2 separate regions of the Homo sapiens genome follow, and region 2 is linked to region 1. Evidence: fine-mapped expression QTL. Tissue or cell type: tibial nerve. Region 1 holds a variant in brackets; the other region holds the start of a gene. All regions are shown on one strand. Distances are from middle to middle.

Region 1 (8,105 bases):
TCAACAGGGATCTAGTGAATCCAGCCTGAGTGAGTGAACTACTTCCTCCTTTTATGAATAATCAGTTTGTCTGCACTGACTCTAATTAGTGTAAATATAGTGAGCTTCCAGCACAAAATACCAAGCATTCTGGCCCAGTGCAAGCCCTTGTTTTTTGGTTTTGGGGTTTTTTGTGTGTGTGTTTTTAGAGAGAAGGGATCTTGCTATATTGCCCAGGCTGGTCTCAAACTCCTTGCCTCAAGTAATCCTCCTGCCTCAGCCTCCCAACTCGCTGGGATTACAGGTACACACCACCACTCTCTGCTGCTTGTCTTTCCTTTTCTTTCTTTCTTTTTTTTTTTATAATTAATAGACATTTTTAGAGCCATTTTAGGTTGACATGAAATGGGGTAAAATGTGCAGAGTTCCCGCACAGCCCCTCCCCAAACACACATTCATCCTCCCCACCATCCACATCCTGACATCCCACACCAGTGTGGGACATTTGTTACCTACATAAACCTACGTTAACATATCACGATCACCTGGAGTCCATAGTTTACTTTGGGGGTTCTGTCTGTGTTGTGCATTCTATGGATTTGGAAAAATGCATAATGATGCACATCCCCCATTTAAAGGAACCTACAGGATAATTTCACTGCCCTAAAAGTCCTCTGTCCTCCCCCTTCTCATCCCTCCGTCCCTTCAAGCCCCTAGTCACCAACAGTCTTCTTACTGTATCCATAGTTTTGCCTTTTCCAGAATGTCATGTAACTTTTCCTTTTGAAAAATAAATTCCTTTCTTTTTAAGTAATACACGTGAAGGTACAACAAACAAAAGATGCAATTGTTTTAAAAGTTTCCCTCCTTCTGTCCCACAACCATTCCTCCAGCCTACCAATTTCTTCCCATTCCTATAGATGCAAGTGTGGGATTTGTGCGTATGTGAGACTTTTGAAGGGAGAGGTTGAAAATGAGGTGCTAGCAAGACAGTTAGCCAAAGAGATCAGTAAACATCTGCAACAATGGAAGAGGAATTCCAGTGACAGGTCAGAAGTGAATATGTAGATTTAGGAGCCTCTGCCCAGCCGGTGACTGCTGTGAATGGATGAGCTCTCTGCGGGGGTAGAGAGCAGCAATCCAGGCCTTGGGGAATTCCTTCATTACAAATATTTATTAGTACCTACAATGCAAGAGGCTCCGTAGGGAGCACAAACCTAAGGAAAGGTGCAAACAAACAAAACCAAGCTTTGGTCACAGAGGCAAAAGGGAGGGACGGCTACCATAGTGTCAGGGAATGATGCCAAGGAAAGAGCTCCCAGGAAGGACGAAGTCATACCTTTGCCACCAGATCAAGAAGTTAAGGCCAAAGGCAGGGGGGAAAAAAAAGAAGAAGAAGCAAAAAGAAGCATTGATGACAGAAAGTTCAGCTGGAGCCTGAGGAACAAAGCCATATATTGAATTAATAGGGACTGTGCAGTGAGGAACTAGAGGCTGAAGAAAGACCATTTTACAACAGGTCATATTGTCAGAGGCGTGTGAACCTCTGAGCAACTCCATGTTGAATAGGAGCTGGGTAAAATGAGGCTGAGACCTACTGGGCTGCATTCCCAGACAGTTAAGGCATTCTAAGTCACAGGATGACATAAAGGGTCACCACAAGATACAGGTCATAAAGATATTGCTGATTAAAAAAAGGTTGCAATAGGCAGGGCGCAGTGGCTCACGCCTGTAATCCCAGCACTTTGGGAGGCCGAGGCAGGCAGATCACCTGAGGTTAAGAGTTCGAGACCAGCCTGGCCAACATGGTGAAACCCCTTCTCTACTGAAAATACAAAAAATTTTAAAAAATTAGCCAGGCATGGTGGCATGCACCTGTAAGCCCAGCTACTTGGGAGGCTGAGGCAGGAGAATAGCTTGAACCCAGGAGGCAGAGGTTGCAGTGAGCAGAGATCATGCCACTGCACTCTAGCCTGGGCGACAGGGCAAGACTGTGTCTCAAAAAAAAAAAAAAAAAAAATTGCGGTAAAGAAGCCAGCTAAAACCCACCAGAACCAAAATGGCAACAAGAGTGACCTCTGGTTGTCCTCACTGCTACATTCCCATTAGCGCCATGACGGTTTACAAATAAATGCCATGGCAACAACAGGAAGTTACCCTATATGGTCTAAAAAGGGGAGGCATGAATAATCCACCGCTTGTTTAGCATATCATCAAGAAATAACCATAAAAACGGGCAACCAGCAGCCCTTGGGGCTGCCCTGTATACAAAGTAGCCATTCTTTTATTCCTTTACTTTCCTAATAAACTTGCTTTCACTTTACTCTACAGACTCCCCCTGAATTATTTGTTGCGTGAGATCCAAGAACCGCCTCTTGGGGTCTGGATCTGGACCCCTTCCCTATAACTTTGGAGCCTGTGGTATTCCAGAATTTGGATGATTTTTGGTTTTAGAAAGGTTATAGAGTACATATATTCTATTATATTCCATGTAACACACCCAGCAGAGTCTGGAATAAGACCCCTCAATCAAACCTATTAATATTTCTGCAGTGAATCATATGAATATTCATACCAAGTGGGATAGGTAAAGACTACAAAATTTCAGCTTCTCCTTAAGAAAATCTTTTGGGTTTTCAGAGCTTCTTAGACTTCAGAACAGATAAGGGACCTGAGCTGAATTTCTTTTCAGGGCTTAGGTAGAGCAGCATGGGTTTATTTTAGGTCTTAGACTGCAACAAATAGTGAAGGTCCTCCATCGGACTCTAAGTGGCTTGGCCAGTCGGGCATGGTGGCTCAAGCCTGTAATCCCAGCACTTTGGGAGGCCCAGGTGGGTGGATCACTTGAGGTCAGGAGTTCGAGACCAGCCTGGTTCAACATAGCAAAACCTAATCTGCACTAAAAAAAAAAAAAAAAAAAAAAAATGAGCCAGGTATGGTGGCTCACGCCTGTAGTCCCAGCTACTCAGGAAGCTGAGGCAGGAGAATCTGTAGAACCCAGGAGGCAGAGGTTACAGTGAGCCGAGATCGCACCACTGCACTACAGCCTGGGTGACAGAGCAAGACTCCGTCTCCAAAAAAAAAAAAAAAAAAAAAAACGAAAATGAAGTGGCTTGAAGACAGAATTCAGTCTGATGATATTTCCTTGGCACATAGTGCATGTCCACTAATTTCAGCTGCACTGAGCTTTTGTTCTTTCTAATCATTACAATGCCTAGGCCTGATCACCGTCCCAACTTGGCTCTTCCTGCAGCCCACCCTCCCAGCCCAAGTCAGCCCAAGTTCCAGAATTACTCCTCCATTGATATGCAGCAAGCACATCTTATTTCTCTTCTTAAATCCAAACTCAATAGCCATCTGTTTGTTCTGGTATTCTAGCACTAATTGCCATTCCTGATTTTGTTTGATATATTTGACCTGGTATTTTAGAACTAACTCTTAATTGTGTTTTTATTTAATATGGATAGCACACATAAAGGAAGAGCACAAGGAGTGCTATATAAATGCAAATTTTATTGTATTTCACTCTAGACCTCAGAGACTCGCCAAACTTGGTTCTACTCTGAAGAAGTTTTGCCCTAAAGGGGTTAGGGAGGCTTCCTCACTCTCCCTTGCACAGCTTCCTCAAAGCTGGACTAATAAAGACATGAAAACCCATCATATTCAAGCCAACTGGTCTACTGAGTTTTGCATCAAAATTAACAAATCTCACATTAGATCATGATTTTTTACATCCTGTTTTTGTGAACTGATTGTGCATTTTGTATGAAAAAGCACCATTCACAGGGCATGGTGGTTTGTGCCTGTAATCCCAGCTACTTGGAAGACTGAGGCAGGAGGATCTTTGAGCCCAGGAATTTGAGGCTACAGAGCTATCGTGGTACCACTGCACTCTAGCCTGAGTGACAGAGCAAAATCCCACCTCTATAAAATAAGAAAAGCACCATCCTAACTGAGTCACTATGACATTGTTTAAAGTTTAAGTTTGCATTGTGGAAAGGACTATTTTAATTTTCTGTTTTTCGAAGGACAGATTCATGGTTACAGAAGTGTGCCATTATCGAGTAGATCATTGGTGCAGCTTGTAAGGCTTGTGAAAGAAAAATAAATCTTGGGGCCCCAAATCACTAAGCTAAAGGGAAAAATCAAGCTGGGAGCTGCTTAGGGCAAACATCCCTCCTATTCTATTCGAAGTCACCCCTCTGCTGACTGAGATAGATGCATATCTGATGGCCTCCCTTGGAAAGGCTAATCAGAAACTCAAAAGAATGCAACCATTCCTTTCTCGCCTACCTGGAAGCCCTTCCCCATCTTCCTGCCTTTGCTTCAAGTTGTCCCACCTTTCCAGACCGAATCAGAGTGCTTCTTACATATACTGATTGATGTCTCACATCTCCCTAAGATATATAAAACTAAACTATGCCCCAACCACCTTGGGGACATGTCGTCAGGACCTCCTGAGGCTGTGTCATGGGCATGTCCTCAACCTTGGCAAAATGAACTTTCTAAATTAACTGACACCTGTCTTGAATTTTTGGGCTTCACAGGCTTCACTGAAATTTTTCAAGATAAGCTGTTCTACTTCCAGGAAGTGTCTAAAGTCGTTATTACAATGAGATTTCAGATCATGTAAGAATCAAGTAAGGCATCAATCACTAAAGCAAAGGAGTCACTC[C/T]TGTGACTCATGAATCATCCCATTTAGGGGCCACTGAGTCACCATGCCATGCTTGGCTGCTATGCTGTAAACAGCCACCCCGGACCCCACACCCTGTGAGAGTTAAGTGCATCCACTGTCCAGGGTCTTAATTTTGAACTTCTCGCCCTGACCCATTCCTCAGGCCACATTCCATGCGGGGCTCAGACCTTCTGGCTTTTTACATCACCGCTCATTCTTCCATCTCTGGTTCTCCCCCTCTCTTTAGACTTGGCCTTCAGATTTTCTTCCTCACTATGACCTTGGCTCTTTCTCAGCCTATCTGTGACTGGATGAATGAATGGATTTTATTTTCTATTTTCTCTTAGTCACTGATTTCATCCTATTGTGTTCTTGAAACAGTCTAATAAGTTATACATGTCTGCAATGGGAGCAGCATATTTGGTTTTCATCACTGGAGACAGAAAATACTTGCCATTTCAGGAATCTTTTTATCTTTAATGATTTATTTAATAACATTCTTTGTAGCCCAGAGCTGGTCTTGGAAAATTACTAACATTCTCCATTTGTGGGGCACGGCCAGGCCAATGAAATGCTACCAACATTGTTATGTCTCCATTGATATCCTATCTGAAGAAAATTGCCATATTAAGAAAGATGTTCTGTTACTAAACATGTTATCTTGCATGTATCACCGTGAGGTTGACATGCCTCTACCCCTGCTTTTGGCCTTTAGCAGACTGGATTCAGACTATAGCTATAGCAGGGCGCCATGGCTCACGCCTGTAATCCCAGCACTTTGGGAGGCCAAGGCGGGTGGATCACAAGGTCAGGAGATCGAGACCATCCTGGCTAACACAGTGAAACCCTGTCTCTATTAAAAAACACAAAAAAATTAGCCAGGCGTGGTGGTGGGCACCTGTAGTCCCAGTTACTCGGGAGGCTGAGGCAGGAGAATGGCGTGACGTGAACTTGGGAGGCGGAGGTTGCAGTGAGCCGAGATGGCGCCACTGCGCTCCAGCCTGGGTGAAAGAGCAAGAATCCATCTCAGAAAAAAAAAAAAAGCAGACTACAGCTATAAATACTGTAGAAATCATACAGGAACAGACAATTTGACCTTTGTTCACACCAGAGTGGAGATGGCAGTAGCGACAAGTGTGACCAACAAAGGGTGGTGGGGAGGCAGAGGGTACAGACCAGAGGATTATTCAAAAAGGTCAAGATCCAAGTAATCAGAATGAGAATCTGAGCAGAATTCCCTAATAAGAACCAAGGCTGGTTACGGGTTCCAGAAGCTGAAAATCCACAACCAGAAGCAACCGTTAACAGAGAAGCAAGTACCGGCATCCATCACAAAGACCAGGAGGTCAGCAGTGGCAGGTCAAGGGAAAGAATCCAGGAAGTCATGAGAACTCCCATAAAAGAAGTGGAAGCTAAGAGCCTTGGTCAAGAGCCAGAGGGTTAGGCTGGGCTCAGTAGTTCATGCCTGTGATCCCAGAATTTTGGGAGGCCGAGGCAGGTGGATCACTTGAGGTCAGGAGTCTGGGACCAGCCTGGGCAACATGGTAAAACCCCATCTCTCCCAAAAATACAAAAACTAGCCAGGCAGGGTGGCATGTTCCTATAGTCCTAGCTACTTGGGAGGCTGAGGCAAAAGAATAGCCTAAGCCAGGGAGGTGGAGGTTGCAGTGAACCAAGATTCGGCCACTGCTCTTCAGCTTGGGTGACAGAGTGAGACTCCGTGGAAAAGAAAAAGAGTCAAAGGGTTGAAAGTATGTTCAACTCTACATACAATAAGAGAAATGCAAGTAAAATTAAAATTATAATGGGAGACCATTGAAAGTATTCATTAAAAATCTAATCAAACCCCTATAATCCAGATATATCACTTCACAGGAAATACAGGAGATAGAAGAAATGTTAAATGTTAGTACATACTGAATTGGCAAAATCAAGACTGAAAATAAATCTAGAAGACAAATAACGACATTCTCTCAACAACAACAAAAAAATTGCAAAGAAAATAGAAGAGATGGAAAAAGGGTACAGCTGTCAACCAACTGCAATGTATAGACCTTATTTGGATCCCAGTGCAAAAAACTGTAAGAAAATAAAAATTATGAAACCATCTCTGAAAAAAAATAGGCAGAGCATATGTTCATATCCATATACTATGTGAGTTATTCCAGGCAAGCTATTAATCTGTCTCAATTTTCTCTTCTGAAAAGCAATGAATAATGCAATGTATCCCCATAGGATTGTGAGAATTAAGAGATAATGCATATAAAGTGCTTAGCCAAGTACCTGGTACCTAGAAACCATTAAACAAATGGTAATCATTATGACACCAGTAATCAAAGGAGTGAAGTAATAACAAGACATGAAAATCATTGCTGCCAGCCGGGCATGGTGGCTAACACCTGTAATCCCAGCACTTTGGGAGGCCAAGGCGGGCGGATCACTAGGTCAGGAGTTCGAGACCAGCCTGGCCAACATAATGAAACCCTGTCTCTACTAAAACTATGAAAATTAGCCAGGCATGGTGCCAGGCATCTGTAGTCCCAGCTACTTGGGAGGCTGAGGCAGGAGAATCACTTGAACCCAGGAGTCAGAGTTTGCAGTGAGCCAAGATCGTGCCACTGCACTCCAGCTTGGGTGACACAGTAAGCCTGTGTCTCAAAAAAGAGAAAAAGCCCGACGCGGTGGCTCATGCCTGTAATCCCAGCACTTTGGAAGGCTAAGGCGGGTGGATCACGAAGTCAGGAGTTCAGGACCAGCCTGGCCAAAATGGTGAAACCCCGTCTCTACTAAAAATACAAAAATTAGCCGGGCCTGCTGGCAGACACCTGTAATCCCAGCTACTTTCGAGGCTGAGGCAGAGAATTGCTCAAACCCAGGAGGCAGAGGTTGCAGTGAGCCGAACTCATTCCACTGCACTCTAGCCTGGGCGACAGAGCGAGACTCCATCGCCAAAAAAAAAAAAAAGAAAAAGAAAATTATTACCATCTGACAATATATACGTGTGTGTGTGTATATATATATATATATATATATATATATAAAAATTTTTTTTTTTTGAGACGGAGTCTTGCTCTGTTGCCCAGGCTGGAGTGCAGCGGCAGGATCTCAGCTCACTACAACCTCTGCCTCCCGGGTTCAAGCAATTCTCTGCCTCAGCCTCCCGAGTAGCTGGGATTACAGGTGCCCACAACCAAGCCTGGCTAATTTTTGTATTTTTTAGTAGAGACAGGGTTTCACCATCTTGGCCAGGCTGGTCTTGAACTCCTGATCTCGTGATCCACCCGCCTCAGCTTCCCAAAATGTTGAGATTACTGGCATGAGCCACTGAGCCCGGCCCTTTTTATATTTTATGATAGGGCAGTAATCAGGACTTAAGCCCGGTTGTTCCCAAACTGGAAAGAATGAGCAGGAACATAATTGCACCTGATCAAATGAGGGCCTTACAGCTGCA
Region 2 (8,105 bases), 210 kb after region 1:
TTGCCCGGGTGCTGGGTGATGTGCCCAGCAACTTCTGCTTTTTCCCCTGGGGAAAACTGTGACATTCGAAAGGTGTCTGCAAGTGTTTCTTCTGGTTGGCCTGGAAGTTTCCCGAGTCCCTGGACTGGCGACCCAAACTCCTACACTTCCTGCCCGGTGCTGGGAAGAAACCCAGATCAGCAGACAAATCAACCACACCCTGAGCCCCAACATCGAGCTCCAACATGTGCCTTTCCCGCCGAACGAGAAAGCGCGGACCCCTTGCAAGCAGCATATAGCCTCGGCGTGACCCGTGGAGAGGCGGGACCCCAGTGGAGAGAGAAGCACGGAGAAGCCTGGGAAGGAGCTTGGTAAGAGGGGCACAGTCCAGGCTGCCCCATGCGCGCTGGGGTTGTCGCCGCGCCTCCTGCGCGCCCCAGTGCCCCCAGAATCTCCAAGAAAGCAATCGTGAGCGCGGATCAGTTTCTGTCTTTCCCAGAAAGCGGGCTTTTTATTGAGGGGAAACTTAGCTGGGAAAAGTCAGCTCGTACGTTTGTTTTGGTTTTTCGTCTATTTGCTTCCCAATTTAAAAGTGGCCGCCTAGGCGACAGGCCTGCGGTTTTCACAGTGTAAAACGGATCAGAGGGAAAGCTCCAGCCCCTCTCGACTTTCGCTTGCGGTTTGCAACCCCTGGGGTGGGTCTGACCCCGCGCGGCACTTGCCCAGGCGAGCTTCCCTCGTCGCGGCCCGACCCGCGCGCGGACTCGGCTTCCCCAGGTCAGGACCCACTAGGTGGGCCGCTCGGCCCCAAGCCTGGCAGGGCGGAGCCTAGGCCGCGCGCCCCGGGGTTGGAGGTTCCCACGGAGCCGGGAAACTGCGCGCCCCAGGTCCGCAGGCCGCCTCCCTTCCCTCGCGCCCTCGCACCCGCCCTCTGCTCTGCCGCTCCCGGTCCTGGGTGTGCGGGAGTCCCGGGGGTCCCTCTCCTGGACGCAGAGGAGGAATTTGGAGCAAAAGGAAGGGAATTTACTGCGGATGGCACCGGAACCTGAATTGACTTGTGCGTTTCCTGCTCTGGGCACGTAGGTTTCCCCTAGGAATCTGGAGTTCGCTGAGGACACTTAATTCCAAGAGATGATGGGTTCACATAAACATACCATTTAGTTAAGAAAAATATTTAAAATAAAGAAAAAAGAAAAACTGAACTTCGATCTTCTTCTCCACGTTCCCTGGTGTCACCAAATAAACAAAGCATTCGGACGAGAGTGGGCTGCTGGGGGCTCGGGAGGTGCGCGAGACAAGGTTACCCTGCGGGTCCGCCACTGCCCCCGGCCTCCAGCACTGCACTGCCCACGAGTTTGCGGGGTGTGAGCGCCGAAGGAGAACCCCGGACCGCCCAGTCTCAGCCTAAAAACTTGGATCCAAGAGTCCTACGGTTGTGGATGTGCCAGTCCTCCGCGACCCTTTCCTGCTGGCCTTCTGCTTTTTATAAACGAAAATAAAAGTTTGATTTAGGCTTAAAGAAATGTCATTCTGGTCGTTCCTCCCTGAAGCGGGACTTACTCAACCTCATATACTCGCCCGGAATTTTCAATCTCGCCTGTCGAAATCGCTAGCTGCGCATCCGCGGAAGAAGTCCTGGATGAGAGGTAGGGTGAAGGGATCAAGCAGATAGCAGCAGGCATCAGCACACTCCGGCCGTTCCGGACGGTCAGGCCCGCCGCTACAGGGAGAAGTGCGGCGGATGGAGCCAGGGCTGCGGGTTGCGCGCGGGCTGGGAACCCGGTGGTGCCACCTTAAGAGTCGGGTCCGCGCAGCGGCTGCGGAGGCGCCCGGCACCTGCAGGGGGCGCTGCTGCCCCGTGGTTTCTCCCGCGCCGCCGCGTGCAGCGGGCCTGGCAGCTCCGGGGCCCCGGTCCCCGGAGGGGGTGGGGACGCTGGGGGAGGAAGGGAGCGAAGTGCAGCCGTTAGGTAACGAACCCGAACCCTCCCGGATTCAGAAGCGGCCTCAGTGAGGCGTTTGCTGGAGGGAGCTTTCCATCATTCGGCCGCGAGAGGAAACGTGGGGAGGCGCCCTCCCCTGCCCCCACCGCCTGCCTTCCTGCCTCCCTCCACCTCCGCTCCCCGACCCCGACCGTGCTTCCCAGACCCTTTGTTCTCGAGGTTGGGAACGGCTGGGTGGGGGTTCCCCGGGGAAGAGGTCCCCCGCGCCGCTCGGAGGGGAAGGGACTGTCGCCTGCCCCGCACCCCAGCCCTCCCCAGTGCCGTCCCCCTTTCCCCCGGCCCCTTCCATCGCGTCCACGCGCTTCCGTTCTCACTCGGACTCCCCCAACTCCCGAGCTCCGGCTCCCCAGCCTGCACGGTCTGCAAGCCCGCCTCCCTTCCCACTTCCCCGCCACCTCTGAGGTCCCCGGGAAGAGGGGAGGAGAGGGAGACGTGTGGGGGAGGAGAAACCACAGAGCCTTCTCGGCGCGGAGCATTCCCAGGGACCCTTCCAGGCCCCGACCCCTGGGACCCGCTGCAGAGGCAGGGCTTTCCCGGCGCCGCCGCAGGTCGCTAGGGCCGCCCCCGCCGCGTCGCCCTGGGGCCCACGGGTGCACGGCCCGGGCAGCAAGGCAAGGTGCGGCCTCTCAGCGCCAGGACCCGAGACCCCCAGCTGGAGAGAAGGGGACACCGTGGTCCGCGCCCTGGGGAGGCTAATTGCACACGAACGCCCCCCTCTTCCCCGCCCCCCACCGTACCCTCTGCAGCGCCACCCGCGTCGCCTCTCCGCCGTGCGCCACCCTGAGGGCTCCCGCGATTGCATCTTCTTGAGCACAGTTACCAATGCGTTCAGCTTCGTTTCTTACTCGGATGGAGACATCGCGGAGGGAAGCGAGGGGACAGGGATGCGGTAGTAGGGGAAAGGTGGGGCGGGAAACCGAGCAGAGAGGTGGGAGACTTGGCTGAGGCAATGGCACCAGGCAGGGCCGCCCGGAGTCCCGAGTCCAGGTCCGCGAGGCAGGCCCCGGTGCAGCCGCGCCCCGGCCGAACCCTACATGTCCTCTGTACTGTGGACACGAGTCCGCGGAGCGCCAGTCACACCCCCGCACCCCTGCAAGCTCCCGCCGTAGAGGGGGCTCGGCACCATCCTGGTCACAAAGTACGTGCCCCCACCCCCCACCCCCAGGTGAAGAGGACGCAGCCCGGCGCCGTCAGCTCCAGGCTGCCTGGAGCCCCCTCCGGCCTCTCGGCGCGACCCTGGTCCTCAATGGCTCGTCGCGAGCTGCGCTAGCTGCTCTCTCGGCAGCGGGTTCCCCAGGACACACCCAGTCCCCACCCCCCGAGAGCTGGCGGCCAGCTCAGGATGCCAGGCGGCCAGGCGGGCGCCCTGCCAAATTCCGCGTTCCTCTCCAGGAGACGGGGAGTTGCGTCCCAGGCTCGGGAAAGCCCGCAGTTCGGGCTTGGGACTCGCTTACAAAGCCCCCCAAGGCGCCAGGGACGCCTCTGCAGGTTGAATTCCTGCTCCGTATCACTTCAATTTTAATTAATCTTTTAAAACACCGCTGTCACGTCGCTTGCAGAAAATTAATCAAACTTGAATCCTTGTTGCATAGCAAGAATTTCGATCCGAGTCTTTTAAAAAGGACTTGACTTTGCAAAGTCACGTCTTTTACAGTTCCCTCATTCCCCCTTTAGCAAGGGAAATACTGCAAAAGTCAAGACATGTTTGTTTGGTTCTTTCTATCTTCAAAATGAAACTTTGCTTATTTCTGATCTTTATTTTCCTGTCTTTGAACAAAAAAAAATAACGAGATAAATTGCCTACCTCGATTAATTCAAAGTATAATTACTTTGAATGATCTTTGTTTAAGAGCCCAGATAAACTAAGATAATCTTAATTTTAATGTGACACGACCCCTATTTTTCCTTGTGAATAATGAGAATAAAGCAGTCATTAATTAATACCAAGATATCTCCATAGAAGATGGTATCTGTTCTCGCTGAGACACTGAAACATCAGTTGTATTAGTAATTGATACTGTATAATTGAACATGAAGATAGCCGTCTATTTTTAACCTCCAAGCTCAGAGTTTATTTGGTGATTATTGAGCTCCTAATAATTAATTTTTTTCCTTCTTACTGCATAAATAATTCTTACGACTCCCAGTTCCCATGCAATGCAGAGGCTTCTCATTAAAACCTACCCCTCAAAATATAAGATTGTGAAGCTATATTGTGCAGCAACTCCTTCTATTTCATTATTTGTAACATATTTCCTCTATTTCATATCTTCCTGGTGCATTTCCTTTGCTGTGATTTTCCTACTAAATCTATGAGAATATAACTATAACATCTTTTACCATAGCTTTGTCTTTCTGTGATCTCTTGGTTCAGTTTAATACACAATACTTAAGACTTCAATTTTTCAAGTTACTAAAATTTGAGGATGAGTTCCACTGAAGAATCAAAAATACTTGTATAGTGAAGTTGCCATGGATTATATTCCCAACCTAACACACAGTCCACTTTAACTCACACTTTTCTGTTGTTAAAAATAGACTTTGCTCAAACACATTCCCTTTTTCCAACTTGAGTTGAAGAGAGTTCTCACAATTTCCTGGGTTAAATGTACATGCTAACACAACCTTTGACATTAAAAAACAAATTCCCCTCCCGCGTTGGAGAGAAGTCTTCCAAACAGTCATGGAAATTTAGACTGTAGCTTTAAGGTATCTAATTATTTCTTAGCCTCAGTTATTTTGGGGCATCAGAATGATCTTCACTTTTTAAGTGGAAATGGTTATGATATTTTTCTCATACATACAAAAAACTCTCTACTTATTTTTCCAATAAAGTGTCTCCCAAGTATGACATGTTGTATACCACACAAATATTCTTAGTACCTCCGCTACCAAATCCATGCATTTTCCCTGTCAGTGCTCTATCTAAAATTCTGGAAAGTATAGAGGGTTTCCACTTTTATTTCCCCCTTAGTACAATTAAAACTTTAGGTCAATATATAACGGAGTGATTCTCTGCACTTGGATTTTATATTTTCCCACTATAATTTGGACTGGAATGGGATTAAAACAGCATCTAGAGTTCTAATCTTGGTTGATGTTTTGGTGTATTCACCGTAATGAGTCCTATTCTCTGGGGTCATGAAGCTCCCAAATGTCAATCAAGCAAACAGATTCAGAAATGCCATTGTTCGACTCCCACGTCACTCGCCTTCCTCTCATTTTATTTAACAATACCGGAGTTCTCTGATCAGTCATTCGGAATATGAGGCATTATCTGGGGAAAATTCACAAAGTGTCTTGATCTTTCTTTGGGAGATACTGTTAAGGGGTTTCCGCAAAGCATAAAGTGCTTGTTTATATTTCTGTCTTTGGACCGCACTGTGGATGGAAAGAACCAATGAATACTGCTTGAAAGGAAATCATACCGTAAATCCGTCAAAAATTAATTCGTCCAGTTGAATGTTACATTTCTATTTTCTGTTTTCGTGTTGGAAGCACCCTGATTTGTCACCAGAGGAGAAGTATGACCAGGTCTGGGTCCAGTTGACATGCCCCCACGTTCAACCCTGTCTATTTTCACCACTTAATACTATTAATGTGTTTAGTCTAAACTAGTTAACTAAGAATTTATTTGGGGGCGAGGAAGAGCCAACCTTTGCCCTGGGAGTTCTACCCAGCCCACTCAGCTACGTCCGGGAGCCTCCGCAACTCGCATTTCCCAGTCGCAACCCTGGGTCATTCCTGCCTCCGTCCCAGCTCCCGGACAATTCCCAAAGCCAAAGGCGTCGAGCGTGTTACTGGCTCCCACCAGCCCAAATTAATAATCAGCTTAACTCGTGGAGGCTTTGAGCCCCAGTGCTCCGTTCCCTGAAGCCTCCCAGTGCGGAGCCCGGCTCCTGCGAGGACATCCTTGGAGGGGGGCCGGGGCGCAGGGACGGATTTCCTGGGAAAAATTGTCGCTGGCGTGTTGCACCTAGAGGGCTGTGGGCAAGGAGGCACGCACCAATGTCCCAGTTCTGGGCTCTCAGATCGGGATTCCTCCAAAATCGCGACAGCCGCTCAGGTGCTGGGTGCTCACGTTGGCAGCACAGAGCGCCAAATGCACGACCCCGCGCGCCGCGCGCGACCTCCACGCACACTTAGAGCCGAGGTGACAAGGGAAGGCGGCGGGGGTGGAGCCGCTCTCTGGTGGAGCATGATCAATCACTTTAAAGGGTTCAAAAGTTCCAAGTTCCCCTTTGGAGGGGAGAGGTAATGCTTCCCGCGGCCTGCTTCTCTCTGAGACCCGCGGGTTCCCGGCAGCCGCGCAACCACTGGGGATCTCGGCTGCCGCTTGCGGGAGCCCCTTCCGGGGAACACGCTCTCCGGGCCGCGCAGCCGGGCGAGGTTGACGCAGCTGCTAGGGGGCAGTTTGGCTTCCCCGGGAGTACCGGAGTCGCTCGGCAAAAACGTGATCTCAGCCTGCAGGGCCCGGGGCGCGCGCTTTTCCCTTTCTCAGCAAGCGGGAAAGGCCTGTTGGCAGAGGCCGGCGGAGTGCTGGCGGCCTGGCGGCTGGAGGCTTCGGCGGAAACCTGAGCTCCCTGCGACCTGTTCTGCTAGCAGGGGCGGGGGAGAGCCCCAATAAGCCGCCCCAGAGGCGGACCGTGCAAATTCCTAAGAAAAAGCCCTCTAGAAAACACCAAGCCCTTCCAAAAGCCGTGGCTCTGCCCCTCCCCCGTCCTGCGGCCTTCCATCCTGGCCCCTCGCATCACCCAGCCGGCCCTCACCTGCTACCTGGCCAAGGGCCTAGCCACCCCTCTGCGTCCCCGCCCCTGCTTTTAAGCTCCTTCTCCCCCTGACCTTTCTGAGGCCTGGGCGAGGGTAGCCAGGGTGCTGCAGAGGAAATGAAATTGTTCTGGAGATTACAGTGGGGCTTTGGGCCAGAAGGGTTTTTCCCCTTCTTTTTCTCAAGCTTCCATGTTAAGTGCAAACTTGTATCTCCCGTCACAAGAATAGCCAAATTTTCTCGCTTATTTGCAGTTTTGCAAAGTTCTACACACAGATCAGTGAACCTTAAGCGCCCTTGTTCAGCCCCACATTGTGGAGGTTTGTCAGGGTCCCTGGGCAGTGAGCGTAATGACAGGTGAATCCAGCAGCCCCAGGGGGAGCCCGACCTAACCCCAGGACTTACAATAGGCCAGGGGGCCAGAGGCTCCCCACACAGCTTCCAGCAACAGGTACTCTACACCAGGGCAGGCCTACAGGGTCCTTCGGCTTAGGCACTGCCCCTAGAAACTGCTTCAGTGACCTGGGACAGAGAGGCCCCACCCACATGTCTTCCCCCAAGGAGATTCCTTCTCTCCAAATTACCCCTCGGTCACACAAGAACAAGAATCTCTGCGCTCTGTGCCACCTGTCCAGACACAGCCAGGCCTTGTTTCAGCTGCAGCAGAGGCCCTCACAATGTAAGCCCATTGGTGCTTTCAACCTGCTTGTTCTTCTGACATGATTTAAAATAAAGAAGAGGAGGAGGAGGGAAGGCAGAAGAAGAAGCAGGGAAGAGGAGGATGGGGGGTGGGGAGGAAGAGGAGCAGGGGAGATGCAGAATAAAAGATGGCCAAAGGGGATCAGCACAAAATGGAACAACTCCTTTCTTATCCAAATTGCCCCATAACTCAGTCTTTCCCACACTCTAAAAGAGGGATAACTGGTTTCAATAACTATTAATACTTTCTCGAAGTAACTTTTTTGAGTGAATTTTACTCTTGCACCTGACTGGAACCGACCTACCCCTCTCCCCAACCTGAAGAGAGGAATGGGCCATGTACCTTTGGGGAGATAAATAGCTTTATAAGGCATAATAGCCTCCCTGTAGCCAGTCATCACTCCACAGAAAGCCAGGGAGATTCAAGCTGTGAGAACCCAGGTGCTTTGTTGCATAACCAATCTCAGCCTTAATCCAGCCAAGGTCAGCCCACATTAGATTCCCAAGAAATGGGCTTAAGGTTCCTCCTCCTGTCTGGACCATTCACAGGTAAGGAGATCCTCACAGAGAAATACATCTAGTACTTACAACCAAACTCCAAGTGGGAGCAAGTCATCATTGTGATGAGAGTAGAAGACCATGGCAGAGAAGGGAGGAGG

Which allele goes with the higher level. Alleles are on the strand shown, and positions count from the first base shown. SD is a standard deviation of normalised expression in the study named.
For the expression in tibial nerve of the gene that starts at base 3,227 in region 2, allele T in region 1 goes with a higher level than allele C (small effect, 0.23 SD a copy in GTEx).

The links. PIP is the estimated chance that this variant, and not a neighbour inherited with it, causes the effect.
Region 2: MIR1915HG starts here. The variant in region 1 is fine-mapped to the expression of MIR1915HG in tibial nerve (GTEx, PIP above 0.99).

What each region holds. Positions count from the first base shown.
Region 1 is chr10:21,281,157-21,289,261 of GRCh38, forward strand. It overlaps a transcript of NEBL not described here. Among named protein-coding and RNA genes, the nearest start is that of LINC02643, 88 kb to the right of the region's middle. RefSeq lists enhancers at 663-1,341, 1,342-2,018, 4,364-5,123, 5,884-6,643. The variant C/T (reference allele first, on the strand shown) is at 4,655.
Region 2 is chr10:21,494,034-21,502,138 of GRCh38, forward strand. MIR1915HG (MIR1915 host gene) reads right to left here and starts at 3,227. Exons shown (of 2, transcript NR_160800.1): 1 at 2,717-3,227; 2 at 1-1,912. It overlaps MIR1915 (microRNA 1915), which reads right to left and starts at 2,608; the gene lies at 2,529-2,608. RefSeq lists an enhancer at 490-1,283 and silencers at 795-894, 1,708-2,147, 2,198-2,247, 2,458-2,707.